5 separate regions of the Homo sapiens genome follow, and regions 2, 3, 4 and 5 are each linked to region 1. The links come from fine-mapping of genetic effects on gene expression. A gene starts in region 1. Each other region holds a variant in brackets. All regions are shown on one strand. Distances are from middle to middle.

The links. PIP is the estimated chance that this variant, and not a neighbour inherited with it, causes the effect.
Region 2: its variant is fine-mapped to the expression of GSDMC in skeletal muscle (GTEx, PIP above 0.99).
Region 3: its variant is fine-mapped to the expression of GSDMC in thyroid (GTEx, PIP above 0.99).
Region 4: its variant is fine-mapped to the expression of GSDMC in skeletal muscle (FUSION, PIP 0.95).
Region 5: its variant is fine-mapped to the expression of GSDMC in left ventricle (GTEx, PIP above 0.99).

The regions. Positions count from the first base shown.
Region 1 is chr8:129,783,006-129,789,278 of GRCh38, reverse strand. GSDMC (gasdermin C) reads left to right here and starts at 2,655. Exons shown (of 14, transcript NM_031415.3): 1 at 2,655-3,268.
Region 2 is chr8:129,731,554-129,737,826 of GRCh38, reverse strand. It overlaps a transcript of GSDMC not described here. Among named protein-coding and RNA genes, the nearest start is that of GSDMC, 52 kb to the left of the region's middle. The variant T/A (reference allele first, on the strand shown) is at 3,771.
Region 3 is chr8:129,742,564-129,748,680 of GRCh38, reverse strand. GSDMC (gasdermin C) reads left to right here. Exons shown (of 14, transcript NM_031415.3): 14 at 1-485. The coding sequence ends at 180. Among named protein-coding and RNA genes, the nearest start is that of GSDMC, 41 kb to the left of the region's middle. The variant T/C (reference allele first, on the strand shown) is at 2,779.
Region 4 is chr8:129,714,131-129,720,403 of GRCh38, reverse strand. It overlaps a transcript of GSDMC not described here. Among named protein-coding and RNA genes, the nearest start is that of CCDC26, 37 kb to the right of the region's middle. The variant G/AG (reference allele first, on the strand shown) is at 3,154.
Region 5 is chr8:129,721,084-129,727,356 of GRCh38, reverse strand. It overlaps a transcript of GSDMC not described here. Among named protein-coding and RNA genes, the nearest start is that of CCDC26, 44 kb to the right of the region's middle. The variant T/C (reference allele first, on the strand shown) is at 2,749.

The DNA of each region.
Region 1 (6,273 bases):
ACAAAGGTGCCAAGACTATACATTGGGGAAAAGACAGTCTCTTCAATAAATGGTGTTGCAAAAACTAGATATCCACACGTAGAAGACTGAAACTAGACCCTTATCTCTCACTATATACAAGAACTAAATTAAAATAGATTAAATAATTGAATCTAAGGACTCAAATTATGAAACTACTACAATAAAACATTGGGGAAACTCTCCAGGACATTGGAATGGGCAAACATTTCTTGAGTAATACCCCACAAGCACAGGCAGCCAAAACAAAAATGGACAAATGCAACCATATCAAAGTAAAAAGCTTCCTTCCAGCAAAGAACAATCAACAACAGAAGAAGAAAACCCAAAGAATGGGAGAAAATATTTGCAAACTAAGCATCTGACAAAGGATTTGTAAGCAGAACACACAAGGAGCTCAAACAATTATACAGGAAAAAATCTAATAAACTAATTAAAATATGGGCAAAAGTTCTAAATAGACATTTCTTGAAAGACGACATACAAATGGCAAACACGCATATGAAAATGTGCTCGACATTATTGATCATCAGAGAAACACCATTCAAAACTACAATGAGATATCATCTCACATCTGTTAAAATGGATTTTACCCAAAAGACAGGCAATAACAGGCTGGAGAGGATGTGGAGAAAAGGGGACCCTTGGACACTGTTTGTGGGAATGTAAATTAGTACAACTACTATGGAGAACAGTTTGGGCCTTCCTCAGAAAAACTGAAAATAGAACTATCGTATGATCCAGCAAACCCACTGTTAAGTATATACCTCCAAAATAGGAAATCAATATATTGAAGAGATATCTGCACTCCCATGTTTATTGCAGTTCCACTCACAATAGCCAAGATTTAGAAGCAATCCAAGTGTCCATCAACAAATGAATGAATAAAAAAAATGGTACGTATACATAATGGAGTACTATTCAGCCATAAAAAGAATGAGATCCTGTCATTTGCAACAACATAGATGGAACTGGAGGTCATTATGTTAAGTGAAATAAGCCAAGCACAGAAAGACAAACTTTACATGTTCTCTCTTATTTGTGAAAGCTAAAAATTAAAACAACTGAACTTACGGAGATAGAGAATAGAATGATGGTTACCAGACGCTAGGAAGGGTAGTGGGGTGGGTGTGCAGGGGTAGGGGGAATGGTTAATGAGTACAAAAAGATTTAGAAGGAATAAGATCTAATGTCTGATAGCACAATATATTATTGACTATAGTCAATAATAATTTAATTGTACATTTAAAAATAACTAAAAGAGTATAATATTTTAACACAAAAAATAAATATCTGAGATGATAGATACCTCATTTACCCTGGTGTGATTATTATACATTGTATGCCTGTATTAAAATATCCCATATATCCCATAAATAAATATATACATCTATGTACCCATAAAAATTAAAGACAAAACAAAACTAAAAACTACAGCTTTGCACAAAGGCTATTGCAACCTTAAACAAAAAATACTTCTGCCAGGACATCTGTCCACCAACTGCCTGTCTAACCTTGGACTGGTGCCACCTTTGTTACTGATCCTTGTAAGCAAAGAATTGATTCAAAACAATTGTGTAATCCTTCTTATTTTTCTTTTTAAAACTTTTTTCTTCCCTTACCTGTCTGAATACACACATAGTTTGTGATGGCACGCATATTCCCATTGCAATGCTCATTCTTGAATAAATATCACTGTCTTTTAGAGAGCTTTTCTTTATCTGTTATTTAGGTTGGTGTGACTCACATAACTGTTCCCAAACAGCTAAGTTACTTTTCTCCGACTTCTGGAATACCCAATAGCAGGTTGGGGCCTATAGAATGTTGGTACACAGAAGGGTTATGTATGTAATTATAATTTTATATTTCAAGTCTATAGTTTTTACAATGGAAATTATAGAACGTGAAAGTTAATTTGGAACATCGTGTCTGGTGGTGATATGCAGAAAGCACAGTCTGAGCTTTGTCCCAAGTGAAGTGCATATCAGGTTCTTACAGTGGAAAGGGAAGGCATAAGACTTTTATGAATATTAAAAGAAAACAAAAGTAAAGTAAATGCATTGTGAAATACTGTCAGCTGAAAGGAATGTTGCTGTATTGAGTGTCAGTTCCAGGAAGTTACTCAAAACTTAAAGGTGTAGCAATCCTGTTTATACAGTTTCTGCTCCTATAGGCACTTTACTTCATCTTGAAACCCATAGGGAGTAATTGGAAAGGACATGGGTTTCAGGCAAGTTTTTAATTCCTTTCACAAATCCCCTTTTTATTTATATTTAAAATAAAGATTGTTGTAAGATTGGATTTAGATAATACATGCATGGTGCTTAACACAGAGGAGGCATTAAGCACAGTAATTCCTGTTGTACAGAGCCCCACATGTAGGCAGTTCAGAGGTGCTTCCCAGGGCCCTGGCGCTAGTGCCTGTCCCTCCTGCTGAAGTTGCCTTTCCTGGTGTCCAGTGATTGAATTCTAAATTCAGCACATATACCAGAGGAATACGAGCCAAAGAAGTTGTTCCAGCTAGAGTTGCTGGGAATCCATGAATCAAAGACTTGCTCAGCTAGTTCTGTATGTGAAAGGAAATGGGTGTGACTCTGAGGAAGCCTTTTTAATTCTGATTCAGGAGATACATAATTAGATGCCACTTGATTTTGTTCCACAGACTTTTTGCTGAGGACTTGAGAGCTAAGGTTCTGTGATCCAGAACTAGTTCCAGACTTACTCTTCTGGAAATGAACAGGGCCCTCCTGTGCTTATTTTTCCAGGATACTGCATTGGAAATTGAGTCAGGGACCCATTGGTGAGAAGAGAACAGTGAACAGAATCACATTGATCTGGTCCTGGAGTTTGTCTGACAATTTCTACTTGACCGCAGGAGGTCTGAAGATTGGAAGGGGCCCTACTCAATTGTGCTATTTTTCTCTCTTTTTTTTTTTTTTGAGACGGAGTTGCCCAGGCTGGAGTGCAGCGGCATGGTCTCAGCTCACTGCAACCTCTGCCTCCCGGGTTCAAGCAGTTCTCTGCCTCAGCCTCCCAAGTAGCTGGGATTACAGGTGCCTGCCACCATTCCTGGCTAATTTTTGTATTTTCAGTAGAGACAGGGTTTCACCATCTTGGCCTGGCTGATCTTGAACTCCTGACCTCGTGATCCACCGGCCTCAGCCTCCCAAAGTGCTGGGATTACAGACGTGAGCCACCGTGCCCGGCCAATCCTGCTATTTCTCTACAGGACAAAGGGATATATAATCTGGTAAGTCCTAATGGGATCAGGGGATGAAAAAGAAAAGATTACTATCATCAGCGACAAAAATGTTCTGGATGGGTTTGTGAAATGAGTCGAAGAGTTTTTTTTCCTACAGAATTTGACTGAAAAGGAAGTTAAGTTCGTCTTAATAATGGAGAATTCCTGATAGCATGTAAGGCTAAGGAATATATCTTCGATACATTATTGCACAGGTCCAGTCTTAAAGAAGCATCTTATATTCTCATTATTCTCTGCTTGTCCAGTGACCTCTTACATGGCCCATATCAGAGAATTGAAATGGTCACATCAGGAATTTTACATGAACTGTTGAAAATTCTGTCTCTCTTCATTATTGAACATATTTAGAAAGTTCAAAAACTGAATTCCATGTAGTTAGGAAGTCCTATTCCTATTTGTTATAATTGTAACAATACAATTATACTCTTAATTGTAACAATACAATTATACTGTTTTAGTTATTTCTAACTGTACAATTATTGACTATAGTCACCCTGTTGTGCTATCGAATACTAGATCTTATTCAGAAATACTAGATCTTATTCAGTCTAACTATTTTTTTTGTGCTCATTTACCATCCCCACCTCCCTCCCACCCCCTAATATCTTTCCCAGCCTCTGGTAACCATCATTTTACTCTATCTCCATAACTTCAATTGTCTTAATTTTTAGCTTTCATAAATAAGTGAGAACATTGTAAAGTTTGTCTTTCTGTGCCTGGCTTATTTCACTTAATGACCTCTAGTCCCCTCTATGTTGTTGCGAATGACAGGATCTCATTTTTTTTTGACACGGAGTTTTGCTCTTGTTGCCCAGGCTGGAGTGCAACAGTGCAATCTCGACTCACTGCAACCTCCGCCTCCTGGGTTCAAGTGATTCTCCTGCCTCAGCCTCCCAAGTAGCTGGGATTACAGTCATGCGCTACCATGCCTGGCTAATTTTGTATTTTTAGTAGAGCGGGGTTTCTCCATGTTGGTCAGGCTGGTCTTGAACTCCTGACCTCAGTTGATCCACCCGCCTCAGCCTCCCAAAGTGCTGGGATTACAGGCATGAGCCACCGCACCCAGCCAATCTCATTCTTTTTTATGGCTGAGTAGTACTCTGTTATGTATATGTACCACATTTTGTTTACCTGTTCATTTGTTGATGGACACTTGCATTGCTTCCCAATCTTGGCTATTGTGAACAGTGCTGCAACAAACATGGGAGTGAAGATATCTCTTCAATATACTGGTTTTCTTTCTTTTGGGTGTACACCCAGCAGAGAGGTTGCTGGGTTGTATGGCAGCTCTATTTTTAGCTTTTTGAGGAAGGTCCAAACTGTTCTCCATAGTGGCTGTACTAATTTACATTCCCACAAACAGGGTACAAGTTTCCCTTTTCTCTACCTTCTCTCCAGCATTTTTTATTACTTGTCTTTTAGATATAAGCCATTTTAACAGGGGTGAGATGATATCTCATTGTAGTTTTGATTTACATTTTTCTGATAACTAATAATGTTGAGGACCTTTTCATATGCCTTTTTTTCATTTGTATGTATTCCTCTGAGAAATGTTTATTCAACTCTTTTGCCCATATTTTAATCTGATTATTAGATTTTTTTCCTATAGAGTTGTGTGGGCTCCTTATATTTTCTGGTTATTATTCCCTTATCAGATGGGAAGTTTGCAAATATTTTCTCCCATTCTGTGGGTTCTCTTTTTCTGTTGTTGATCTTTTCCTTTGCTGGAGGGAAGCTTTGTAACTTGATGAGATCCAATTTGTCTATTTTTGCTTTGGTTGCCTGTGCTGGTGGTGTATTACTTAAGAAATTTTTGCCTAGACCAATGTCCTGGAGAGTTTCCCCAGTGTTTTCCTGTAGTAGTTTCACAGTTTGAGGCTTTACATTGAAGTCTATAATCTATTTTGATTTTATTTTTGTACATGATGAGAGAGAGTGGTCTAGTTTCAGTCTCCTGCATATGAATATCCAGGTTTCCCAGCACCATTTATTGAAGAGACTGTCCTTTCTCTAATGTATGTTCTTGGCACCTTGGTAAAAAATGAGCTCACTGTAGGTATATGGATTTGTTTCTGGGTTCTCGATTTTTTTCCTTTGGTCTGTGTGTCTGTTTTCATGCCAGTACCATGCTGTTTTGGTTACTGTAGCTCTGTAGTATAATTTGATGTCAGATAATATGATTCCTTGAGTTTTGCTCTTTTTGCTCAGGATAGATTTTGTTATTCTGGGTCTTTTGTGTTTCCATATAAATTTTAGGATTGTTTTTTCTCTTTCTGTGAAGAATGTCATTGATATTTTGATATAATTTGCATAGAATCTGAAGATTGCTTTGGATAGTATGGACATTTTAACAATATTGATTCTTCCAATCTATGAACATGGAATATCTTTCCATTTTTTGTGTCCTCTTCAGTTTCTTTCATCAATGTTTTATAGTTTTCATTGAAGAGATTTTTTACTTCTTCAGTTAAATTAATTCCTAAGAATTTAATTTTATTTGTAGCTCTTGTAAATGGAATTACTTTCTTGATTTCTTTTTCAGATTCTTCTCTGTTGGCATATAGAAGTGCTACTGATTTTTGGATGTTGATTTTGTATCCTGCAACTTTAATAAATTTATAACTTCTAATAGTTTTTTGTTGTTGGAATCTTCAGTTTGTTCCATATATAAGACCACATCATCCACAAACAAGGACAATTTGACTTCTTCCTTTCCAATTTGGATGCCCTTTATGTTTTTCTCTTTTCCCCCATTGAGTGAGTCTGTAATATATGGCTTTTTATTATGTTGAGTTATCTTCCTTCTATACCCAGTTTTTTGAGGGGTTTTATCATCAAGGGATATTGAGTTTTATCAAGTGCTTTTTCAGCATTAATGGAAATGATCACGTGGTTTTTGTCTTTCATTTTCTTGCTATAATGTATCACATTGATTGATTTGTGCGTGTTGTACCATCCTTGCATCCCTGGGATAAATCCCACTTGGTCATGAT
Region 2 (6,273 bases), 51 kb after region 1:
GTTTAATTAGATCCTATTTGTCTATTTTGGCTTTTGTTGCCATTGCTTTTGGTGTTTTAGTCATGAAGTTCTTGCCCATGCCTATGTCCTGAATGGTGTTGCCTAGGTTTTCTTCTAGAGTTTTTATGGTTTTAGGTCTTACATTTAAGTCTTTAATCCATCTTGAATTAATGTTTGTATAAGGTGGAAGGAAGGGATCCAGTTTCAGTTTTTACATATGACTAGCCAGTTTTCCACATATGACTAGCCAGTTTTCCCAGCACCATTTATTAAATAGAGAATTCTTTCCCCATTTCTTGTTTTTGTCAGGTTTGTCAAAGATCAGAAGGTTGTAGATGTGTGGTATTGTTTCTGAGGGCTCTTTTCTGTTCCATTGGTCTACATCTCTGTTTTGGTAACAGTACCATGCTGTTTTGGTTACTGTAGCCTTGTAGTATAGTTTGAAGTCAGGTAGCGTGATGCTTCCAGCTTTGTTCTTTTGGCTTAGGATTGTCTTGGCAATGCAGGCTCTTTTTTGGTTCCATATGAACTTTAAAGTAGTTTTTTCCAATTCTGTGAAGAAAGTCATTGGTAGCTTGATGGGGATGGCATTGAATCTATAAATTACCTTGGGCAGTATGGCCATTTTCACGCTATTGATTCTTCCTACCCATGAGCATGGAATGTTCTTCCATTTGTTTGTGTCCTCTTTTATTTCATTGAGCAGTGGTTTGTAGTTCTCCTTGAAGAGGTCCTTCACATCCCTTGTAAGTTGGATTCCTAGGTATTTTACTCTCTTTGTAGCAATTGTGAATGGGAGTTCATTCATGATTTGGCTCTTTGTTTGTCTGTTATTGGTGTATAAGAATGCTTGTGATTTTTGCACATTGATTTGATATCCTGAGACTTTGCTGAAGTTGCTTATCAGCTTAAGGAGATTTTGGGCTAAGATGATGGGGTTTTCTAAATATACAATCATGTGATCTGCAAACAGGGACAATTTGACTTCCTCTTTTCTTAATTGAATACCCTTCATTTCTTTCTCTTGCCTGATTGCCCTGGCCAGAACTTCCAACACTATGTTGAATAGGAGTGGTGAGAGAGGGCATCCCTGTCTTGTGCCAGTTTTCAAAAGGAATGCTTCCAGTTTTTGCCCATTCAGTATGATATTGGCTGTGGGTTTGTCATAAATAGCTCTTATTATTTTGAGATAACGTCCCATCAATACCTAATTTATTGAGAGTTTTTAGCATGATGGGCTGTTGAATTTTGTCGAAGGCCTTTTCTGCATCTATTGAGATAATCATGTGTTGTTTGTCGATGGTTCCGTTTATGTGATGGATTACGTTTATTGATTTGCATATGTTGAACCAGCCTTGCATCCCAAGGATGAAGCTGAGTTGATCGTGGTGGATAGCTTTTTGATGTGCTGCTGGATTTGGTTTGCCAGTATTTTATTGAGGATTTTCACGTCGATGTTCATCAGGGATATTGGTCTAAAATTCTCTTTTTTTGTTGCATCTGTGCCAGGCTTTGGTATCAGAACGATGCTGGCCTCATAAAATGAGTTAGGATTCCCTGTTTTTCTATTGATTGGAATAGTTTCAGAAGGAATGGTACCAGCTCCTCTCTGTACCTCTGGTAGAATTCGGCTGTGAATCCATCTGGTCCTGGACTTTTTTTGGTTGGTAGGCTATTAATTATTGCCTCAATTTCAGAGCCTGTTATTGATCTATTCAAAAATTCAATTTCTTCCGGAGCATGTGTGTGTCCAGGAATTTATCCATTTCTTCTAGATTTTCTAGTTTATTTGAGTAGAGGTGTTTATAGTATTCTCTGATGGTAGTTTGTATTCCTGTGGGATTGTTGGTGATATCCCCTTTATCATTTTTTATTGTGTCTATTTGATTCTTCTCTCTTTTCTACTTTATTAGTCTTGCTAGCGGTCTATCAGTTTTGTTGACCTTTTCAAAAAACAAGTTCCTGGATTCATTGATTTTTTGAGGGTTTTTTGTGTCTCTATCTCCTTTAGTTCTGCTCTGATCTTAGTTATTTCTTACCTTCTGCTAGCTTTTGAATTTGTTTGGCCTTGCTTCTCTAGTTCTTTTAATTGTGATGTTAGGGTGTCAATTTTAGATCTTGCCTGCTTTCTCTTGTGGGCATTTAGTGCTATAAATTTCCCTGTACACACTGCTTTAAATGTGTCCCAGAGATTCTGGTACATTGTGTTTTTTTTCTCATTGGTTTCAAAGAACATCTTTATTTCTGCCTTCATTTTGTTGTTTACCCAGTAGTCATTCAGGAGCAGGTTGTTCAGTTTCCATGTAGTTGTGTGGTTTTAAGTGAGTTTCTTAATCCTGAGTTCTAATTTGATTGCACTGTGGTCTGAAAGACAGTTTGTTGTGATTTCTGTTCTTTTACATTTGCTGAGGAGTGCTTTACTTCCAACTATGTGGTCAATTTTGGAATAAGTGCGATGTGGTGCTGAGAAGAATGTCTATTCTGTTGATTTGGGGTGGAGAGTTCTGTAGATGTCTATTAGGTCCACTTGGTGCAGAGCTGAGTTCAAGTCCTGGATATCCTTGTTAATCTTATGTCTCGTTGATCTGTCTAATATTAACAGTGGGGTGTTAAAGTCTCCCATTATTATTGTGTGGGAATCTAAGTCTCTTTGTAGGTCACTCAGGACTTGCTTTATGAATCTGGGTGCTCCTGTATTGGGTGCATATATATTTAGGATAGTTAGCTCTTCTTGTTGAATTGATCCCTTTACTGTTATGTAATGGCCTTCTTTGTCTCTTCTGATCTTTGTTGGTTTAAAGTCTGTTTTATCAGAGACTAGGATTGCAACCCCTGCTTTTTTTTGCTTTCCATTTGCTTGGTAGATCTTCCTCCATCCCTCTATTTGAGCCTGTCTCTGCATGTGAGATGGGTGTCCTGAATACAGCACACTGATGGGTCTTGACTCTTTATCCAATTTGCCAGTCTGTGTCTTTTAATTGGAACATTTAGCCCATTTACATTTAAGGTTAATATTTTTATGTGTGAATTTGATCCTGTCATTATGATGTTAGCTGGTTATTTTGCTTGTTAGTTGATGCAGTTTCTTCCTAGCATCAATGGTCTTTACAATTTGGCTGTTTTTGCAGTGTCTGGTACCAGTTGTTCCTTTCCATGTTTAGTGCTCTTTTAGGGCAGGCCTGGTGATGACAAAATCTCTCAGCATTTGCTTGTCTGTAAAGGGTTTTATTTCTTCTTCACTTATGAAGCTTAGTTTGGCTGGATATGAAATTCTGGGTTGAAAATTCTTTTCTTTAGGAATGTTGGATATTGGCCCCCACTCTCATCTGGCTTGTGGAGTTTCTGCTGAGAGATCTGCTGTTAGTCTGTTGGACTTCCTTTTGTGGGTAACCTGACCTTTCTCTCTGGCTGCCCTTAACATTTTTTTCCTTCATTTCAATCTTGGTGAATCTGACAATTATGTGTCTTGGGGTTGCTCTTCTCGAGGAGTATCTTTGTGGTGTTCTCTGTATTTCCCGAATTTCAGTGTTGGCCTGCCTTGCTAGATTGGGGAAGTTCTCCTGGATAATATCCTGAAGAGTGTTTTCCAACTTGGTTCCATTCTCCCCATCACTTTCAGGTACACCAATCAAATGTAGATTTGGTCTTTTCACATAGTCCCATATTTCTTGGAGGCTTTGTTCATTTCTTTTTACTTTTTTTCTCTAAACTTCTCTTCTCACTTTATCTCATTAATTTGATCTTCAATCACTGATACACTTTCTTCCTCT[T/A]GATTGAATCGGCTGTTGAAGATTGTGCATGCATCACGTAGTTCTCATGCCATGGTTTTCAGCTCCATCAGGTCATTTAAGGTGTTCTCTACACTGTTTATTCTAGTTAGCCATTCATCTAATCTTTTTTCAAGGTTTTTAGCTTCCTTGTGATGGGTTTGAACATCCTCCTTTAGCTCAGAGAAGTTTGTTATTACTGACCTTGTGAAGTCTACTTCTGTCAGGTCATCAAAGTCATTCTCCATCCAGCTTTGTTTCATTGCTGGTCCTCACCAGCTGTCGTCCTTTGGAGGAGAAGAGGCGCTCTGGTTTTTAGAATTTTCAACTTTTCTGCTCTGGTTTCTCTCCATCTTTGTGGTTTTATCTACCTTTGGTTTTTGATGTTGGCAGCCTACAGATGGGGTTTTGGTGTGGATGTGCTTTTTGTTGATGTTGATGCTATTCTTTTCTGTTTGTTAGTTTTCCTTCTAATAGTCAGGTCCCTCAGCTGCAGGTCTGTTGGAGTTTGCTGGAGGTCCACTCCAGACCCTATTTGCCTGGGTATCACCAGCAGAGGCTGCAGAACAGCAAATATTGCTGCCTGATCCTTCCTCTGGAAGTTTCATCCCAGAGGGGCATCCGCCTGTATGAGGTGTTAGTTGGCCCCTACTGGGAAGTGTCTCCCAGTTAGGCTACATGGGGGTCAGGGACCCACTCGAGGAGGCAGTCTTTCCATTCTCAGAGCTCATGCACCATGCCGGGAGAACCACTGCTCTGTTAAGAGCTGTCAGACAGGGATGTTTAAGTCTGCAGAAGTTTCTGCTGCCTTTTGTTCAGCTATGCCCTGCCCCCAGAGGTGGAATCTACAGAGGCAACAGACCTTGCTGAACTGTGGTGGGCTCTGCCCACTTTGAGCTTCCCCAGCTGCTTTGTTTACCTACTCAAGCCTCAGCAATGGCGGACACCTCCCTCTCCTGCCAGGTTGCTGCCTCGCAGGTTGACCTCAGATTGCTGCGCTAGCAGTGAGCAAGGCTCCGTGGGTGTGGGACCTGCTGAGCCACATGCGGGATATAATCTCCTGGTGTGCTGTTTGCTAAGACCATTGGAAAAGCACAGTATTTGGGAGAGAGTGTCCTGATTTTCCAGGTACAGTCTGTCACGGCTTCCCTTGGCTAGGAAAGGGAAATCCCGTGACCCCTTGCACTTCCTGGATGAGGCAATGACCCACCCTGCTTCAGCTTGCCCTCTGTGGGCTGCACCCACTGTCCAACCAGTCCTATTGAGATGAACCAGGTACCTCAGTTGGAAATGCAGAAATCACCCGTCTTCTGCATCAATCACACTGGGAACTGCAGACCGGTGCTGTTCCTATTCGGCCATCTTGGAAGAGAATCCTTTAGAAGTTTCTTTGTGTTGATTTTCAACCTTGTCCTGGAGCTCATTGAGCTTCCTTGCAATCCATACTCTGAATTCTTTATCTGTCATTTCCGAGTTTCCATTTTGATTACAGACCATTGCTGTAGATCCAGTGTGATCATTTGGTGGTGTCACTACATTCAGATTTTTTGTGCTGGTTCCTTCTCATCTGGAGACCTTGGCACTTCTAATATTTGTAATTATTTTAGTGTGGGTAGGAGTTTTTCTTTTTATTTCCCTATAATAGTATTATTTTTTCTTTCCCTTTTCCCCCCTCCCTAGGGGGTGTAACTGTAGAGAATGCTGGGTAGGGTCTTTTGGCTTTCCTTCTATAGCCCTCTGCACTTCTTTCAGCAAGTTTTTTTTTTTTTTAATTTATAAAGAACAGAAATATATTTCTCACAGTTCTGGAGGATGGGAAATCTAAGATCAATGATCTGGCACTTGTTCGACTAGGGCTTTCTTGCTGTGTTCTCACATACAGAAAGCAAGCTAGCAGGATGCTCCCTGAAGGCTCTTTTATAAGGGCCTTAATCCCAGTCCTGAGAGAGAACCCCTTGTGGCCCAGTGACCTCTTAAAGGCCCCACCTCTTGATGCTATTGTATTGGCAACACTTGAATTTGAGGGGACACATTCAAGTCATGGCAAACTGAACATTTCCCTTTTGCCAGACAGCACCACGTTCTTTGTCAGTAGGTGGTGGTAGAGGGACACTGCAGAATAAAGGGGCTTCTCTTGCTTCTCCTCTTGCTTCTAAGAGGATGCTGTGACAGTTAATTTTAGGTGTCAATGTGGCTGGGCCACAGGGTGCCCAACTATTTGGTCATATATTTTTTTAAAATTTTAGATATTTAACTTTTGCTCTGACTTTCCAGTTATAAGGTCAAACTTTATTCTGGGTGTTTCTGTGAGGGTGTTTTTACATGAGATTGACATTTAAATCAGTGAACTTTGAATAACGCAGACTGCCCTCCTCGATGTTAGTGGGCTTGATCCAGTCAGTTGAAGGGCTGAAGAGAAAAAAGACTGTCCTCTTCCAAGAAAAAGAGAATCCTCCAACAGATACCTTTGGACTGGACCCGCACCATCAGCTTTCCTGGGTTGCCA
Region 3 (6,117 bases), 41 kb after region 1:
CCTGAGCTCCTCGCCCCACTCCAGAGTGAGGGTTTGGCCATCACCTATGGCCTGCTGGAGGAGTGTGGCCTTAGGATGGAGCTGGATAACCCCAGGTCAACCTGGGATGTAGAAGCAAAGATGCCCCTGTCTGCCCTCTATGGGACTCTCTCGTTGCTGCAGCAGCTGGCTGAGGCCTAAGCCCTCCCTGATGGGCAGTCAGTCCAGAGATGCTGGCCCTCGCCCAGTCTATGCTGTGAGTGTCCTTATGGGTGCAAGAGATAGGGCTGTGCCTCTCTGCGTTTCCAGGTGGAGTAGAGACAGTAATGGGTAGAGACTTTAGGAAATGTTTTGGGGTGGTGGAATACTCTATATATTGACAAGAGTTTATATATTGACAAGAGTTTATATATTTGTCAAAACTCCTCAAATAGTATGTTAAAGACGTAAGCGTTTCACTATGTATAAATTTTACTTCAAAATAATAAAAACAAATACTGACTCTAGTTAATGGTGTGCATTTTGAATTGTTTTGGGTGAAGTGTACCGATAACGGTAACTTACATTGAAATGCAACAAAAAGTAAGTTGACTTGATGATAGACAGATAAGTGACCAAGTAAATGTGATAAAGTATTAGTAATTGGGGAATATGGGTGAAGGATATAGAAGAGATTTTTTTTTTCCTGGAAACATTTTGTGAGTCCGAAATTGTTTCACATTAAATGTTAGCCCCCACGTGTGTGTGTGTGTGTATGTGCATATTCCTCAATTATTAATATTTTGTCACATTTTCTTGGTCATGTATCTGTCTCATTCTGTGCTCTCTGTGTCATTTGCTAATGCCACCTCGCCTCCTAAGCTGAAACCTGGGAGTCCACCTTGACTCCTCTCCTTAATCCCCAATCAACACAGTCCAGCCGACTCACCATAGCCCTCCTCTTCTCACCTGGACAGCTGGTCTCGTGCTCCCAGCTGGTTGTCCTGCCACCATCTTGTTCTCTTCAAATTTTCCTTGAATCCTGGAGGCTCATATCACAGCAGGCATGGGGAATAATTTAAAAATGCAACCTTTGTATGTCACTCCTCTGCCTAAAATCCTTTAGATGCTCCCTGTCATCTAGAATTATCAACCAAGATTTTAAATATGACGTCTCATCAGAATCACCTTGGCTGACATTTTCACATGACAATAATGAAGTGACTAATCACCACTTCACTCTAGTGTATTCCAGTAATCCCTATTGCTCACATCATGTCTTCACTTTTAAACAGTGTTTACTTTTTTTCTGCTAAAAAAGGCAAGAAAATGAGTTCTTCTCCCATCTTGCTCTTCTATCATCTCCTATCTCCAATTATTTTATTATTTGTAAATTGCCAAGGAGTGTAACCGTATCCCTCATGGCTGTTTAGTGTTAATTCTTTATCAAATTTTTTTTTTTTTTTGAGACAGAGTCTTGCTCTGTCACTCAGGCTGGAATGCAGTGGCACGATCTCGGCTCACTGCAACCTCCACCTCCCAGGTTCAAGTGATTCTTGTGCCTCATCTTCCTGAATAGCTGGGATTGCAGGCATGTACCACCACACTCGGCTAATTTTTGTATTTTTTTTTTTTTGTACAGACAGGGTTTCACCATGTTGGCCGGGATGGTCTTGAACTCCTGGCCTCAAGTGATCTGCCTGCTTCGGCCTCCCAAAGTGCTGGGATTACAAGTGTGAGCCACCGTTCCCAGTCTGTTTAAATTTATTCATTGGTAAGTATCAGTCATTTTGTTTTATTCCTTGAATGGCTGTGATCAAATAATTTTTTCAGTAGTGCTTCACTCCCCAAGTCCCTTCATATTTGAGAAACTTTGCCTCTTGCCTTTGTTCTTGAAGAATTCCTTGGAGAGAGATTATATTTTTAGGTAGCAGGTAACACCTTCTTGCCCTCAGTCTTTTGTAGCCATGCAAAGGTCTCCCGTTGACTTATTGATGCTTTGAAGAAGAACAAGGCTAGTCAAATTTTCCCAAACTCTTTGCATATACATCTAAATGTATGCCTGAAGAATTCTTTCTTCATCCTTGAAGTTAAGCACTTTAACCAGGCAATACCTGTGTCTCAGTCACTCTATGTCACTTTTCCTGGGAGCTACAGATTCATTTTTTCCTTTCAGGAAAATTTCCTCTTATAATAATTAAATATCTTTTATATTCTATTTGTTAGGTTCCCTACCTCACAGATACCAATTGTCCTTTAGGATTCTCCATACATTATCTTGTCTAATTCTTGCATCTTTGATTTTTTTTCGTCTGCATTCTCTGAGATCACGGCAGCTCTTTCCTCTATGTCTATAACTCAACTCTCAACTATAATTACTTTCCAATTCATCAGTTCAGATATTGTGTTGTGACCTTCAGTTCTTTTCCTTAGCTTTACAGTCTCTCTTTTCACATATTTCTGTTGTTGTATCTTTGCAGCTTTGAGGTTTTTACCTTATTAAAGTATTTCTCTTAGATTCTTCCATGGCATAAAACTGTTCTTTTTCTTGAGCTATGTTTTCTACCTGAATTGATTCCTCCACTCTCTTCTTTTCCTGTAGTGTGCTTGTATGGAATCTCTGTCACTTCCCACCTTCTCCCCTACCCCGCACCATGCTCATCCTCAGCATGGGCAGCTCTGTCCAAATTATATTTGCACAAAGACAATAGGGTAAATGAGTTTTTCTCAACTCTTTTATCAATTAAATGAGATGGTTTCTGTTCCTCTGCAAACTATGGATTGAAACCTGTGTTTTCCAGTGCTTAAGGTCATGGCATG[T/C]AGAACGGCAGGAGGGCTCACCTGGGGGTCTGGGCAGTCTTGGATGATTGCCCCGGCCTCTCTTTCACCTTCTACGATTTTAAACATTCTCTGTGGTGAATTATACACTATGAACTACTCACTCCTTCTTCAAATTTCCTCCTTTTGTGGCTGCAGAGAAGTAGTGCTCTTGTTTTCCCTATCACCTATTTCTTTTTATTCACTAAACATTATTTACTGAAGGCCTAGTATGTTCCAGTCATTATTCTATGCACCTGGAGTTCCACTTCCCATTGATTTTATATTTCAGTGGAAAAAAAGAGAAAATAAATAAATGTATTATATAGTATATTAGAAAGTAACAAGTGTCATTATTTATCCAAGTAGAGATATTAAGGTTGTAGCATATAATTCGGGAAGATGCCTGAGTTGAAGACAATCATTTGAGCACAGACACTATAGATGTATTAAAGTCATGAGGCTGGATAAGACCACTTAGGAAGCAGTGAAAAATCACTATGAGAGAGTAAGAAGTTCCAGAGACGAATCCCTAGGGAACCCTACTGTTTAGAGGTTGAGTGAAGAGGAGAGAACATCAAAGAAGATGAGGAAGACTGAATGTAAAGTAAGGAGAAAACTAGGAGAGAATGTGACACTTGGAAGCCATATGAAAAAGGTTTCAAAAACTTCATTAAGTGTGATATAAACAGTGCTAATAGATCAAATGGTGCTAATAGATTGAGAGGAGAACTGAGGACTGACTATTGAATTTTGCTACATTGAGGTCATTGATAACTTTGACAAAAGCAATTTTCATGGGCTTGTAGTAAGAAAACTTGATTGGAATTGATTTAAGAGGGAGTGGGAAGAAATCCGTGAGAGACAGTCAGGGTAGGCAACCCATTATCCCTTATAGGCTATGTTTATACTTATTCATCCTTAAACAGTGGACCTCTCTAGGTCTCATCTATTCTCTTTATACATTTGTGGCAGAGAAACGAGTGTCTACACAAAATATTGACTTCCAATATCCATTTTCCACTGCTACCAGTATGATAGCATTGTTAAATGAGCACATGGTCATTCAGAAGAAATAGTATGTTTTCTAGTTTCCTATACAGCTAGGTTGGCCATATGACAAGGGGGATGTAAGCAGCAGTTTTCTGAGTTAATATCCAGAAACCATTCTTAAAGACGGTTAGTGTGTGCCTTCCTTGTCTCTTACTAGTCCCTTTATTCATTTGTCTGCTGGAATACAGATGGGAGGGCAGAGCATTGAGTTGGAGGAAGACTAAGTTCCTGAGGACTTTGTGAAACACAGCTGCGCTGTCAGCCCTACACTGCCTACTTTTTACTTCTGCATGAATGAAAATCAATTTCTTGTTGAAATTACCATTATGTTGGATCTGCATTACTTCTCTCTCAACCCAATTCTAACTGTTATACATTTCCTGGGCAATATTGTTCACAGTTACTATTTCATTTGCTGTCTATTTTTCAAATAATTACCTAACCTCCATCTCTAGAGCAGACATCAACCTTCAGATATATTTCTTAAAATATTGAGTAGGCTTTCACTTTTAGCTTGATTAAATAGCTTTTAGTGAATCTGCTCTCTTTCTGCAAATAAATAAAAACCTCACCAAAATATACTAAACAACTGTTTTCAGATATTGTGTAATAGGAAGCACAGGCAAACAAACAGGAGTCCTAAGATTGCCCCAGGTTTCTGCCTGGAGCACATTCTGAACCACAGTTCAGAAAGAGAAACCTGTATAAGGTGGAGTGGTCTCTCTGAGTTAACAACACAGAGATAGGAGGTTGAGGAGGCCAAAGGAACTAACATTTTTAGGGCAGAGTTCTAGGAAAGAGGGAGTATTATCCAGTAACTTACATAGGGTACCTTGAGCCTTGGTCTAAATACTTAACTTGTGCATGTATAGCATAAGGCTTCAAAATAGTAGATTTAAAAGCTATCAGCTAGCTGTAGCCTGCAAAATTTCTAGAGCTTGACTGGTTCTGGCAGATATTTGGGTTTCAACCAGCTACCATGGACAGAACTCATTGAACACTCAGGACATTCATTAGAAGTCCCAGAAGGATCATGTCTTAGTAGAAGGGATAAGATGTAGAGTGGAGGCTGTATAAACCCCATTTTAACAGAGTATAAAAACAAGCCTCAAAAGAATCAAGTGGATCTGCATATAACTAGTTGCCAGCTAAAGCAAAATTTAACACTTCTTAAAGGAATACAACAAAATCCAGACACATTCAATAATGCAACATTCACAATTCCAGTATTACTACACATGGGAAGAGGCAGGTAAATGTGATCTATAACATATCAATTAGTTAATAAACAGAATACAGAAATGACAGATGGGATGACGATGGTGGGTTAGCTGATAAGGACTTTAAAACAGCTTATTATAAATATGCTCAAGTGTTTAAAAGAAAACAGAAGCCTATTGAGGAAAGAAAAGAATAAATTGAAAATAACGAAATGGAATGTCTAGAGCTAAAAAATATCATGTGTGAAATAAAAATACACTGTACAGGCTTGTTAGTAGAATAGGTAATGCAGATGGAATGATAAATGAAATTTAAGATATAGTAATAGAAGCTAAACTGAAGCACAAAAAACAAAAAGTGCAAAGACCTTCAAGGACCTGTGATACGATATAACACATGTAATTGGAGCCCCATAACTAAAGTGAGCAAAAACAATACTTAAAAGAAATACGTGCTGAAAATTTAATGAAAATGTAATAAAAACCAAACTCCACAGACCCAAATGGCTTGGTGAACTCTGAACAGGATAAGCACACAAGAACACTATCCCAAGATGTACAATAATCACATTCCTGAAAACCAATGATAAAGGGATAACTTTAAAAGCAGGCACAGAAAGACCCAATGCATTCAGAGAAAGAAAGGTTACAATTATTGATGATTATAATGCAAATCCATGATAAAAAGCAAAGCAAAATAAAGGAAAACTATCAATCTAGAATTGACAATAATTTTCAGCAAAATAACTTTCAAAAATGAAAGTAAACTTTTGATTCTGGCCAACATGGAGTAGCAGAGACTGGATTTTTCCTTCTGCTGGAAACAACTAAAAAACCCACAAAATATATGAAATAATGGTTTTCAAGTAATTGGACAGCAGTTAAAAAGGACAGTGAGCCTTGAGAAATGGAAGAAAACCAAGGTGAGCCCTCTGATTGCCCCAGATTACTGTCTTGAGAGAGTTTCCAGCATGGCACAGGAAGGAGGAACCCAAGAACAGCCTAAGAACCTCCTCGAGTTGAATGGATGAAGGTGAGAGTCTGGGGAAGCCAAGGCAGCTAGAGTTTT
Region 4 (6,273 bases), 69 kb after region 1:
ATGAGAATTTAGACAAAAAAAGAAACTTTTTGATACATCCTGATATCAGGACATTGTACATACTCAAATTCATAACCTCAAATGTTGATAATAATAGTAATTATTTGCTACATGTGAATTTGTGGTCTTTAGCCTACAAAGGATGATCACAAGCACTATTCTATTTCTTCTCACCAAAACACTGTGAGGGTATCTGATTTGTATATTGGGAAGTATTGACTTTGATGTTTGGCAGACTAGGGCTTCTACTCTGGATCCTGTCTACTTTCTAGCTTGGCTACCTTGAGCACATTATAATAGTTACATGATTGAGTGTCTTTTCTGTTCATATTCTTTTACATATTGTTTCGAATTGTTCATAGGGACTCCTAAAGGGTAGATATTGTTCCCATTTATGGATGAGAACACTTGTTATTGGAGTAGTTATGTGACTTGGATATTTACTTATTTATTTATTTAGAGATGGAGTCTTGCTCTGTTGCCCAGGCTGGAGTGCAGTGAAGTGATACTGGCTCACTGCAACCTCTGCCTCCTGATTTCAAGAGATTCTTGTGCCTCAGCCTCCTGAGTAGATGGAATTACAGGTGCACACCACCACACCTGGCTAATCTTTGTATTTTTAGTAGAGACGGGGTTTCACCATGTTGGCCAGGCTTGTCTCAAATTCCCGGCCTCAAGTGATCTGCCTGCCTCAGCCTCCCAAAGTTTTGGAATTACAGGTGTGAGCCACTGTACCTGGCCACTTGAATCGTTTTTAAATGTATTGAGTTATTTTGTGACCCAAAATGTGATCTACCTCCGTAAGTATTCCATGTACTCTTGGAAAAAAATGTGTATTATGCTTATATAGAGTGGTGGATTCTATAAATGTTAATTTGGTCAAGTTAGTTGATAGTATTGATCAAGTCTTCAGTTTCCTTACCAATCTTCTGTCAATTTGTTTGATTAATTACTGAGTTAGTGATATTGAAATCTTACACCATAATTGTAAATTTTTCTACGTCTCTTTTTGGTTTTATCAGTTTTTACTTCAGGTATTTTGAAATTCTATTATTAGGTACATAAACATTCAGAATTGTTATGTTTGCTTGATGAATTGATCTCTTATTATTATGAAATGAACATTATAATCTGTGGTAATATTGTGTCTTCTGAAGTCCATTTCGTCTGAATTTAATATAGCCAAATGCATCTTTCTTTTTCAAGATTTTTTTTGTTATTATTTTACTTTAAGCTCTGGGATACATGTGCAGAACATGCAGGTTTGTTACATGGGTATACATATGCCATGGTGGTTTGCTGCACCCATCAACTCGTCATCTACATTAGGTATTTCTACTAATGCTGTCCCTCCCCTAGCCCCCCACCTCCTGACAGGCCCCGGTGTGTGATACTCCCCTCCCTGTGTCCGTGTGTTCTCATTGTTCAGCTCCCACTTATGAGTGAGAACATGTGGTGTTTTGTTTTCTGTTCCTGTGTTAGTTTGCTGAGAATGATGGTTTCCAGCTTCACCCATGTCCCTGCAAAGGACATGAACTCATCCTTTTTTATGGCTGCATAGTATTTCCATGGTGTATAAGTGCCACATTTTCTTTATCCAGTCTATCGTTGATGGGCATTTGGGTTGATTCCAAGTCTTTGCTATTGTGAATAGTGCTGCAGTAAACATATGTGTGCATGTGTCTTTATCACAGAATGATTTATAATCCTTTGGTTATATACCCAGTAATGGGACTGCTGGGTCAAATGGTATTTCTGGTTCTAGATCCTTGAGGAAACTCCACACTGCCTTCCACAATGGTTGAACTAATTTATACTCCCACCAACAGTGTAAAAGCGTTACAATTTCTCCACATCCTCTCCAGCATCTGTTGTTTCCTGACTTTTTAATAATCACCGTTCTACCTGGTGTGAGATGGTAGTATCTCATTGTGGTTTTGATTTGCATTTCTCTAATGACTAGTGATGAGATGATGAGCTTTTTTCCATATGTTTGTTGGCCGCATAAATGTCTTCTTTTGAGAAGTGTCTGTTCATATACTTTGCCCAATTTTGATGGGGTTGTTTGTTTTTTTCTTGTAAATTTGTTTAAATTCCTTGTAGATTCTGTATATTAGCCCTTTGTCAGATGGATAGATTGCAAAAATTTTCTCCCATTTGGTAGGTTGCCTGTTTACTTTGTTGATAGTTTCTTTTGCTGTGCAAAAGCTCTTTAGTTTAATTAGATCCTATTTGTCAATTTTGGCTTTTTTTTGCCATCGCTTTTTGTGTTTTAGTCATGAAGTCTTTGCCCATGCCTATGTCTTGAATAGTATTGACTATGTTTTCTTCTAGGATTTTTATGGTTTTAGGTCTTACATTTAAGTTTTGAATCTATCTTGAGTGAATTTTTGTATAAGGTGTAAGGGAGGAGTCCAGTTTCAGTTTTCTGCATATGGCTAGCCAGTTTCCCCAACACCATTTATTAAATAGAGGATTCTTTCCCTATTGCTTGTTTTTGTCAGGTTTGTCAATGATCAGATTGTTGCAGATGTGTGCCGTTATTTCTGAGGCCTCTGTTCTGTTCCACTGGTATATATATGTATATTTTGGTACCAGTACTATACTGTTTTGGTTACTGTAGCCTTGTAGTGTAGTTTGAAGTCAGGTAGCATGATGCCTCCAGCTTTGTTCTTTTTGCTTAGGATTGTTTTTTCTATATGGTCTCTTTTTTGGTTCCATATGAAATTTAAAGTAGTTTTTTTCTAATTCTGTGAGGAAAGTCAATGGTAGCTTGAGGGGCATAGCATCAAATCTATAAATCACTTTGGGCAGTGTGGCCATTTTCACGATATTAATTCTTCCTATCATGAGCATGGAATGTTTTTCCATTTGTTTGTGTTGTGTCTTATTTCCTTGAGTAGTGGTTCGTAGTTCTCCTTGAAGAGTTCCTTCACATCCCTTGTAAGCTGGTATTACCACTGATCCCACAGAAATACAAACCTCTACACAAATAAACTAGAAAATCTAGAAGAAATGAATAAATTTCTAGACACATACACCCTCCCAAGACTAAACCAGGAAGAAGTCCAATCCCTGAATAGACCAATAACAAGTTCTGAAATTGAGGCAGTAATTAATAGCCTACCAATAAAAAAAAAAAAAAAAAAAAAA[G/AG]CCCAGGACCAGATGGAGTCACAGCCAAATTCTACCAGAGGTAAAAGAGAAGCTGGTACCATTCCTTCTGAAACTATTCCAAACAATAGAAAAAGAGGGGCTCCTCCTTAACTCATTTTATGAGGCCAGCATCATTCTGATGCCAAAACCTGGCAGAGACACAACAACAACAAAAAATTTCAGGCCAATATCCCTGAAGAACATCAATGCAAAAATCCTTAATAAAATACTGGCAAACCGAATCCAGCAGCACATCAAAAAGCTTATCCACCATGATCAAGTCAGCTTCATCCCTGGGATGCAAGCCTGCTTCAACATATGCAAATCAATAAATGTAATCCATCATATGAACAGAACCAATGGCAAAAACTACATGATTATGTCAATAGATGCAGAAAAGGCCTTCAATAAAATTCAACACACCTTTATGCTAAAAACTCTCAATAAACTTGGTGTTGATGGAATGTATCTCAGAATAATAAGAGCTATTTATGGCCAACCCACAGCCGATGTCATAATGAATAGGCAAAACCTGGAAGCACTCCCTTGAAAACTGGCACAAGACAAGGATGCCCTCTCTCACCACTCCTATTCAACATAGTATTGGAAGTTGTGACCAGGGCAATCAGGCAAGAGAAAGAAATAAAGGGTATTTAAATAGGAAGAGAGGAAGTCAAGTTGTCTCTGTTTGCAGATGACATGATTGTATATTTAGAAAACCCCATTGTCTCAGCCCCAAATCTCCTTAAGCTGATAAGCCACTTCAGCAAAGTATCAGGATACAAAATCAGTGTGCAAAAATCACAAGCATTCCTATACACCACTAATAGACAAACAGAGAGCCAAATCATGAGTGAACTCCCATTCACAATTGCTACAAAGAGAATAAAATACCAAATGCATCTTTCTTTTGATTGGTATTAATACATTATATCTTTTCTTACCTTTTTATTTTTAATCTCTTTGTGTCTTCATATTTAAAGTACATTTCTTGTAGAAAGCATATGATTGTGTCTTGCTTTTTCCCACATTCTGAAAATCTCTGCCTTTTAATTTGGATATTTAGACCACTTACATTTAATGGGATTCTTGATATGGCATGTTTAAGTCTATCATCTTGCCACTTTTTAAAAAAATTGCCCATATGTTGTTTCCTTTTTCTTGCCTTCTTTCGGAATGAGTAATTTTTTAAACAAATAATTCCTTTTTATCTTCTTTGTTGGCTTATTTGCTATAACTTTGTATTGTTATTTTAGAAGTTGCTTTAGGTTCAAGTAATATTATACTACTTCATGTACAGTATAAAAAACTTACAATGGCATTATCTATTTTTCTCCTTACAACCTTATGATATTTTTGACATATATTCTACTTGTACATGTATTATAAAACCTGTACTACATTGTTATTATTTTTGCTTAAACAGATTAGTTTGTTTAAAGATATTTAAATAATAAAAAATCTTATATGTTTACTCATGCAGTTACCACTTCCAGGGGTATTTTTTCAACTGCGTAGATCCACATTTCCGTCTGATATCATATTCCTTCTGCCTAAATGATGATGTCTTTTTGTATTTCTTGTAATGCAGCTTTGCTGGTGAATAAATTTGTTTAGTTTTCATATATCTGTAAAAGTTTTTCTTTTGACTTTATTTTAGTTTGATTTTGAAACTCATTTAAGGTAGGCATAGAATTCTAGGTTGATAGTTTTTCTTTCACTACTTGTACTCAGGGTTTTGAGATTCTTGTTCTGTGGGTTTACTGATTTCATCAAATTTGGACATTTTAGAGAAATATTTCTCCAAATATTTTTTTTTCTGTCTCCTATCACTCTCATTTAGGGACTCTAATTACCCTGTTTGATGCTGGATATTTTTGTGTTCCTATATTACAGAGTCTTGTTCTGGGACACTGTTAAGTTACTTGGAAACAGATTTTTTGGAGTGTTGCTTTTATGTCTTTTTTATAGGCTGGGCCAGAACAGTGTTTAGTCTAGGACTGATTATTTTCCACTACTGAGTTAAGAAGACCCTCTGAGTATTCTGTCTACTGCCCAGAAAATCATAAGGCTTTCACATCTAGGTTGGGGAAGAGACACTGTTTATGACCCTGTGTCTTAATATTTATATTATTTTAGTGGTTTTTCTGAGCTTTACAATATACACACCTAAATGTTCACATTCTATTTAGAGTTAATATGTTATCACTTCAGGTAAAGCATAGACGCCTTACCATCATTCAGGTCATTTTAACCTTACCCTTGGTATTATAATTGACATGTATATTATGTCTATTACATTGGAGACCTCCCAGACAATGTTAGAATTTTTGCTTTCAATCGTTGTACATATTTTTAAGAATTTAAGAGAAGAAAAATCATCTCTATATTTATCAAGTTATTTACATTTATGCCACTCTTCTTTTAATTCCAAAGTTTTATTCCTTTTGATATAATTCCTCTTCAGCCTGAAGAACTTCCTTTGGCAATTTTTTTCAAGCAGGTCTGCTGGTGACAAATCCTCTTAGCCATCTTTCATCTGAGAATGTCTTCATTTTAGAGGATTTTGGCCATGTAATTATAAAATCTGTGTGTTTATTTACTGAAGTTTTTAAATTTAAATCGACTTCTTATTTTGGAGGAAGAAATTTGGACAAAATGAAACTTGAAATCACTACCATAAATGGAAAATCAGTATCACTTGCTATAGATAGATGACAACAATAAGATACACAGTGAAAATAAAACATTATTAAAGTCTCTTTTGCCTCCCAGGCACTGGTCATGAAAGAAGCTCTCTCTTTGTAACAAGTTCCCTTTGAGAAACACTGGTTGGATGAATGGATGGACGGAGGAATGAATGAATGAGTGAATTAATAAAAACAGACTATTTCTGTCTTTTTACTCATTGAATAAAGATTTATTAAGCCCACATTCTGTGATGGGCACTGAACTATCTCTGGAGCGGCAATAATCATGGGACAGATGAGGTTTAGGCCCTCCCAGCACTGGCAGCTCAGTGTGAAGGAGTGGATCCAACCTTTACCTGAGAGTGGGCTTTGATGGGTGAAAGCTCGGGTAAGAGGCACACTTGAAAAGATGTAAAATGGAAGGGTTGTG
Region 5 (6,273 bases), 62 kb after region 1:
TTTCCTTCTTGAATTAAGCTCACAGAGTTGATCTTTATGCACTGTCTTGCTATTTCCAAGTGGCTGAGCACACACTAAAAGGCTTTAATCCACCATCTTGAAAAAAAATTGTCTTTTCTTATAAGGACATAAGTTATATGTCCTTATATGTCCATCGTAAGTCATGGATTTAGGGCTCACTCTAATCCAGCATGACTTCTTTTTAGCTAAATACATCTGCAAGGGCTCTATTTCCAAATAAGGGCACATTCTGAGGTTCTGGATGAATGTAAATTTCCAAGTAAACTTTGTTGACTTCAGGGGCCATGTGCGTAAATGAGTATGTGAATAGGTGTGTGTGTGTGTGTGTGTGTGTGTATGTGTATTGGGTGTGGTTGGGAAGTTGCTGGAAGACTGAGACATGGGGGTATCCCACTGTAGTCATTTAAAACACTATTCTGGTCATTTATATAAAAGCTGAGCTGCTGTAACTGGGCTTGCAGGCTACCAGTTTGGGATCCTTCCTGGGCCAGAGAAACACATTTGAATTTGTTCCAAGTGAAATTAAGTCATGGAGACTCTGACTGCTAGAGGCAGGGGGTGGGTGGGGGGAGGGACTGGATTGGAAGGGAGCCTGCATGGAGGTAAGTATGACATCCAGGAAGTTTCTCTAATCGTCCACGCACAGTATGGAATACTTTAAAAGACAGGAGCTTGAAAAGTAAGTGTATTGAATTCTAGTTTCAATAGATACCAGGAATACCTTGGAGGTAATTAAAACAAACTTTATTCGTATATCCGATCACATCTTTCTGGGTTATCTATAAAATGACAGTGACTAGTAATATTTTTCTAGTAAATTTCCAATATATGCCAGAAGGTGGCAGCATTGTCAAACAGCAGGATGCTTGGTGCTGCCTGCCACTCTCCTTTATATGCTTCCGGACCTACTGAATTCAAGGCCATCTCCTCTCTCTCACACCCTGCCCTCCTGCCTCCCCTCTTCCATGTCTTTCTCCTTGCTGGGTTAACATGGAGTGGGCTGGGAGAAGTGGGGCATCAACTGAGGGCCTAACACTGGTCTCCTTTTATATTAATATCAGAATAGAACCTCCTTCTTGAAACACTACATTGATTGTATTAAATGTCTCCCTTAAAAATCTCTGGGAGGTAAGACCAGAATGATGAGGAACTTAGAACAATTGTCAATATTTCAGAAAAGCCATGCCTTGGTAAAATGTCAACTGCTTATGCTAGGATCATTATGGATTCTGTGATAAATCTGATTGTCTCATGTTGAGCAAAGACCTGGGTTGGGAGTTTCAAATATTTTTCCATAAGCAGAGGAATATTCTCTTTAAATAAATTCAGCCAGGCAATTAAAGTCTTTCAAAACATTGGAATCTTGGTTAACACATAAGAAAGCAGGGGTGGTGAGAATCTTGGGATTCATTATCTTGGTGGATACAAAGTTCTTCTTCATTTAAAAGACTGTATTGATTAGGGCAGCAGGGCTAACCAGAAAAACCTGGGTTTGGAGTTGGGCCGATCCCTAACTTTGCAACCTCCGGTAAATAATTCAAAATCTTTGAGCTTCATTTTCCCCAGCGCATTGGATTGCTATTGACATAAATTAAATAGTGTATATAAAGAACCTAGTATAGTGCTAGCACATAGTTGATGCCCAACAAGCTTTTCTTGAATCAATGGAACTAACAGCAATAGTAATATTGAGTTTTAGAGGCCTGCTGTGTACCTGATATTGTGGTCGTGGCGAGACTCAAAAGCAACAAATGGAAAGAAGAGAAGAATATGATTTTCTGATCTGGGACATTTAAATTACTATTTTTAATTTTTAGATCTTGGGCAATCGAACACATTTGAAACTGCTCCCTGGCTCTGGAGGGGGGTGATAAGTAACTGAGATGCCAGGCCACATGCCACTTTTCTTACATACCTCACAGCATGTGGCAGAGTACACAATATCAACTCTGGAAATTGAGCTGTTAGAAAGAAAAGAACGCATGAGTGTGTCTTTGATTTGAATACAGGTAGTCAGTTCATTACCTGAGGTTCCAGGGAGGATAAATCTTGCCTTTAATCTATACCAGCTTTATTGTCAGGGAACAGGACAGGGACGTGCTGCCATTATTCACCATCACTTATTTGAGGACACTTATTTAGCCTGTACTCCAACAGATAGTCTAATAAGATACTTGATGGAGAGAGGGCATGTGTGAATGTGAATGTGGAAAATGGTGGCCCCATGGTCTTCCTCTTGAGCTTTCTCAGGCTAGCAGAGGACAGGAGCAATCACAACAGCTCAAGTTAGAAAGGGGCTGAAGGGTTAACTTGTTCAACTGGCCTTGTATTCTCAAATTCCTTTTATGATATTGCTTCAGGAGCACTTCAAGAAAACCTCCAAGTAGAGCTTGAGATCTTAGTCCCTCTGTGCCACCTTGCAATGCCTTTTTCTTCTCATGAGAAGCTGGGCTCCTCAAACTATGCCCTTTGTTAATTGTTATTTCTTTGAATACTTCAAGGCCCTGTATTCCTTCTATAGGTAGCTCCCTCCCACCCCAGTAAGGGAGGAGGATTATGTGAATTCTAATAACATTTTTTTCCATAATTTCCAATAGTTCCTTTTTGGATAATTATGCTATCTAACGCTTTTTCGCTAAAAAGTATCATTTTTTTGAAGAATTCTACTTCTGTTTCTGTGTGTGAACATATATAGTTTTCTATACAAAATTAGGAACCAGCTTGTCA[T/C]TAAGTGAGTTGTTACTCATTGTTTATTGGATGCATACAAGATACCAGGAATACAGGAGGGAATAAGACAGAAAACCTGCCTTCCAGGAGTTTGTATTTTAATAAGCTGTCATCTCAGACAAGGTGAAAGAAGATTGTATTATCTATTGCAAACAAATTGTTATTGTATTATCTATTGTGTTATCAATATAATCTATTGATAAACAAATAGATTGTATTATCTATTGCATAACAAATCACCCCCAAAACGTAATGGCTTAAAATAATAAACATTTAACTTATATTTTCCTCTTTCTGCTGGTTAAGAATTTGGGAATGGCCTACCTGGCTGGTTCTGGCTTAGGGTCTTACATGTGACTGCAGTTGGATGTTGGCAAGGGCTATAGTCACCTGAAAGCTTAATTGAGGCTGGAGGATCTGTTTTGAAGATGGCTGTCTTGCATGGCTGTAGGCAGGAGGCCTTAGTTCCTAACCATGTGGTCTCTCCATAGATGGCTTGAGTGCCCTCTCAACATGGAGGCTGGATTTCTCCAGAGTGAGTGATTGCCTCAGGATACAGCAAGCCTGGCTTTCCCCAGAGGCCATGATTGCTTTAGGATGCAAAAGCAAGCTTTTGTGCCCACATATTAATTAATTAGTTAATTCAACAAGTATTTATTGAACACTTACTATTTGCTAGAAGTTCCAGCATTAAAACATACCTCATTCTTTCCTCACTGAGAGTCTGGAAAAAGTAAAAATACTTTCAGCTTAGTTAAAAATTGGAAGGGCTAGAGTAGTAGTATTTTCTAGAGTAATTCATAGAGAAATAAACCATTTAACCAAGGTAGGGGTGCAATCCAATCACTTGCAAATAAACAGTGCAACTGCCCTTGATTCAAGTGTGCTCTGGGTCTCTTTTTATTTTGGAAATCCTTGTGCTTTTGTAATGGCTGCCTAGGAACCAGGGCTTTGCTCAGTTCATGCCAGGAGTGTTTGAGCAGAGTTGATCAATGGCATTAAAATTCACTAGGTTTCCCAAGCAGTAAAAAACTGCTAGATGCGGCCAGGCGCGGTGGCTCATGCCTGTAATCCCAGCACTTTTGGAGGCCGAGGCGGGTGGATCATGAGGTCAGGAGTTCGAGACCAATCTGACCAGGATGTTGAAACCCTGTCTCTACTAAAAATACAAAAAAAAAAAAAAAAAAAAGGAGAAGAAAAAATAGCCAGGCGTGGTGGCACATGCCTGTAATCCCAGCTACTCAGGAGGCTGAGGCATGAGAATAGCTTGAACCCGGGAGGCAGAGGTTGCAGTGAGCCGAGATCATGCCACTGCACTCCAGCTTGGGCGACAGAGAGAGACTCCATCTCAAAAAACAAAAACAGAAACAAAAAAACTGCTAGATGCTGAGCCCGGATGGCCACCTAGCAGTGCAGAGGGTGAGTGTCAAGGTCAGAAGACCCTGGGACGGGTAGAATTTTTCTAGGTTGGGAGGAAGGATGTGCATGCACGATGGTAGTTTTACTCATGGTTGGCTAACAGTGGCATGATTCACATCTAAGAATAGATAACATTTGTTTGAAAATGTTTTTGGTGTTTGCTTTCAGTGGTGCTTACACTGAAATGGGAATGGCACAGAAAAATAGAATGTGGTGAGTACCTCCCTCTTGTTTGTGAACATTCTACAGTTTTATGATTAGAATCTATCAATTTTAGAACTCTGGTGCGTAGATAATTCAAATCAGCTTAATTCTCAAAATTTTCGCTGGCCCCAAACAAAAACATATGACTAGAATCCTTTTTAAATATGTGTTTTGAAAAAAGTTAAATCCATCTGTATGCAAGACTATGCTATATGTAAGACTCTGGGTTAACATATGTTGAAGTGAGAAAGACATTGTTTGGCATTTACCATTCATTCATTCATTTATTCAATAAATATTAAAGGTACAATTTTCCAGGTGCTCTGTTAGGCATTGGGATATAGACATCAATAAAATAGACACATTCCTTGTCCTCATAGTATTGCATTCTAGTGGGGCTCATGACATATGAGAAAGAGAGAAAAACTCATGTAGCTCTCCTGGGGCAGTAGAAGGGCCAAAGGACTCCAGTAGGTGAAATAAGGATTTTGACAGCTACACAGGAAACTCAGAGCTGCCAAATTCTGCCTTTCTGGATGCTTTTCTATGAATCCCATCCATGACAGGTGAATTCTTATGTAACAGACTTGTTTATAAGCTACACTAACCCAAGGTGTCCAGTTGGGCTACCAGAAATAAAACTGTAACTCCTTCACTCACCCACATTGATTATTCATTAAAGCTTCACCTCTTTCAAAATCTCTCCCTCTCATTCAAGGAGGGCTCTGAAATTTTTCACACTTGCTTGCAAATTGCTATTCCCCGAGCACCGTAGGGCTTCTAGTGAGGAGTCATTGAACACTCATCAACAGTGGGAAGAAATAATCAAATGTATCTTTAAGATTAATTTGCAAACAGGGAATAGAGTGACTTAAACTGGAATGAAATTGGAATTAAGAAATACCATAAAGGAACATACTGGAGGGATATTTTATATGTTTTTAATTTTTTTGGCCAACTAGCTGTCCTTTCTCAGTTTAGGGTAGTAGCTCTTCAATTCTGCTTTTGGGGACCGTCTTTTCCACTCTAAGTCATTGTGATTTGGGTGGGGCTAATCTAACCCCCACTCTGAGGGTGGGGTTAGTGAACTAGGTCTGGCCAAGGAGAAAACATACAGCGCATTGTTCTGAAACCACAACGATCATTCATAGAGTGTTTGCTGGAACCATGAGTGAGGTATCCTCTTACCAATGGGGTTGCCAGTTGGTAGGATGTAAACCCAAAGTTCTGTTTGCTATTACATAAGAAAAAGTGACTGAGAGTGCTGTCAAGTCAGAGAGAACTAGAGCAGTAATATGGAGAGTGATATTTGGTAGTAATGAGGACCTGGATCCAGCCCTGTCTGAAGTCTAATTTTCAGTTACATTTTCCCACAAATTATTATCTTTATGAGAGGTAATTTGAGTTGGAATTTCTACCATTTCCACAAGAAGATCATGGGCTAATACACTAGAATATTGAGCAGTATCAAGTCTTTAACACTAAAAGTTGTAAAATAATTAAAATTGAGGATGCTTTTGAGAAGAATTACAAGAAGATGTGGTAGATGAAGGAGAGAAGAGTAAGGCAGTAGGATTTGCCAGCTTCAGCCAGATGATTAAGAAGATGGTGCTGTCTGTTCTTAACAGAAACAAAGAAGTCAGGAAAATGATTTGGAGTAAGGCAAAGGGGTGGGAGTGAAACCTACTGTAGACATGTTGGGTTGCTATTGATAGCTGGGCATCTAACCTAGTAGTTGAAAATTTGGGACTGAGTCAATGCAGAGAGACCATTTCTAAAGTGGGAGGCAATAATTAAAAATGATGTAGCCAGTAAAATCATGAAGGGAGAACATGGTGAATAGGTAAGAAAAATGGGCCATTGGAAGACCCAGGTTTAGGATTCAGGAAGAAAAAGTGAAAC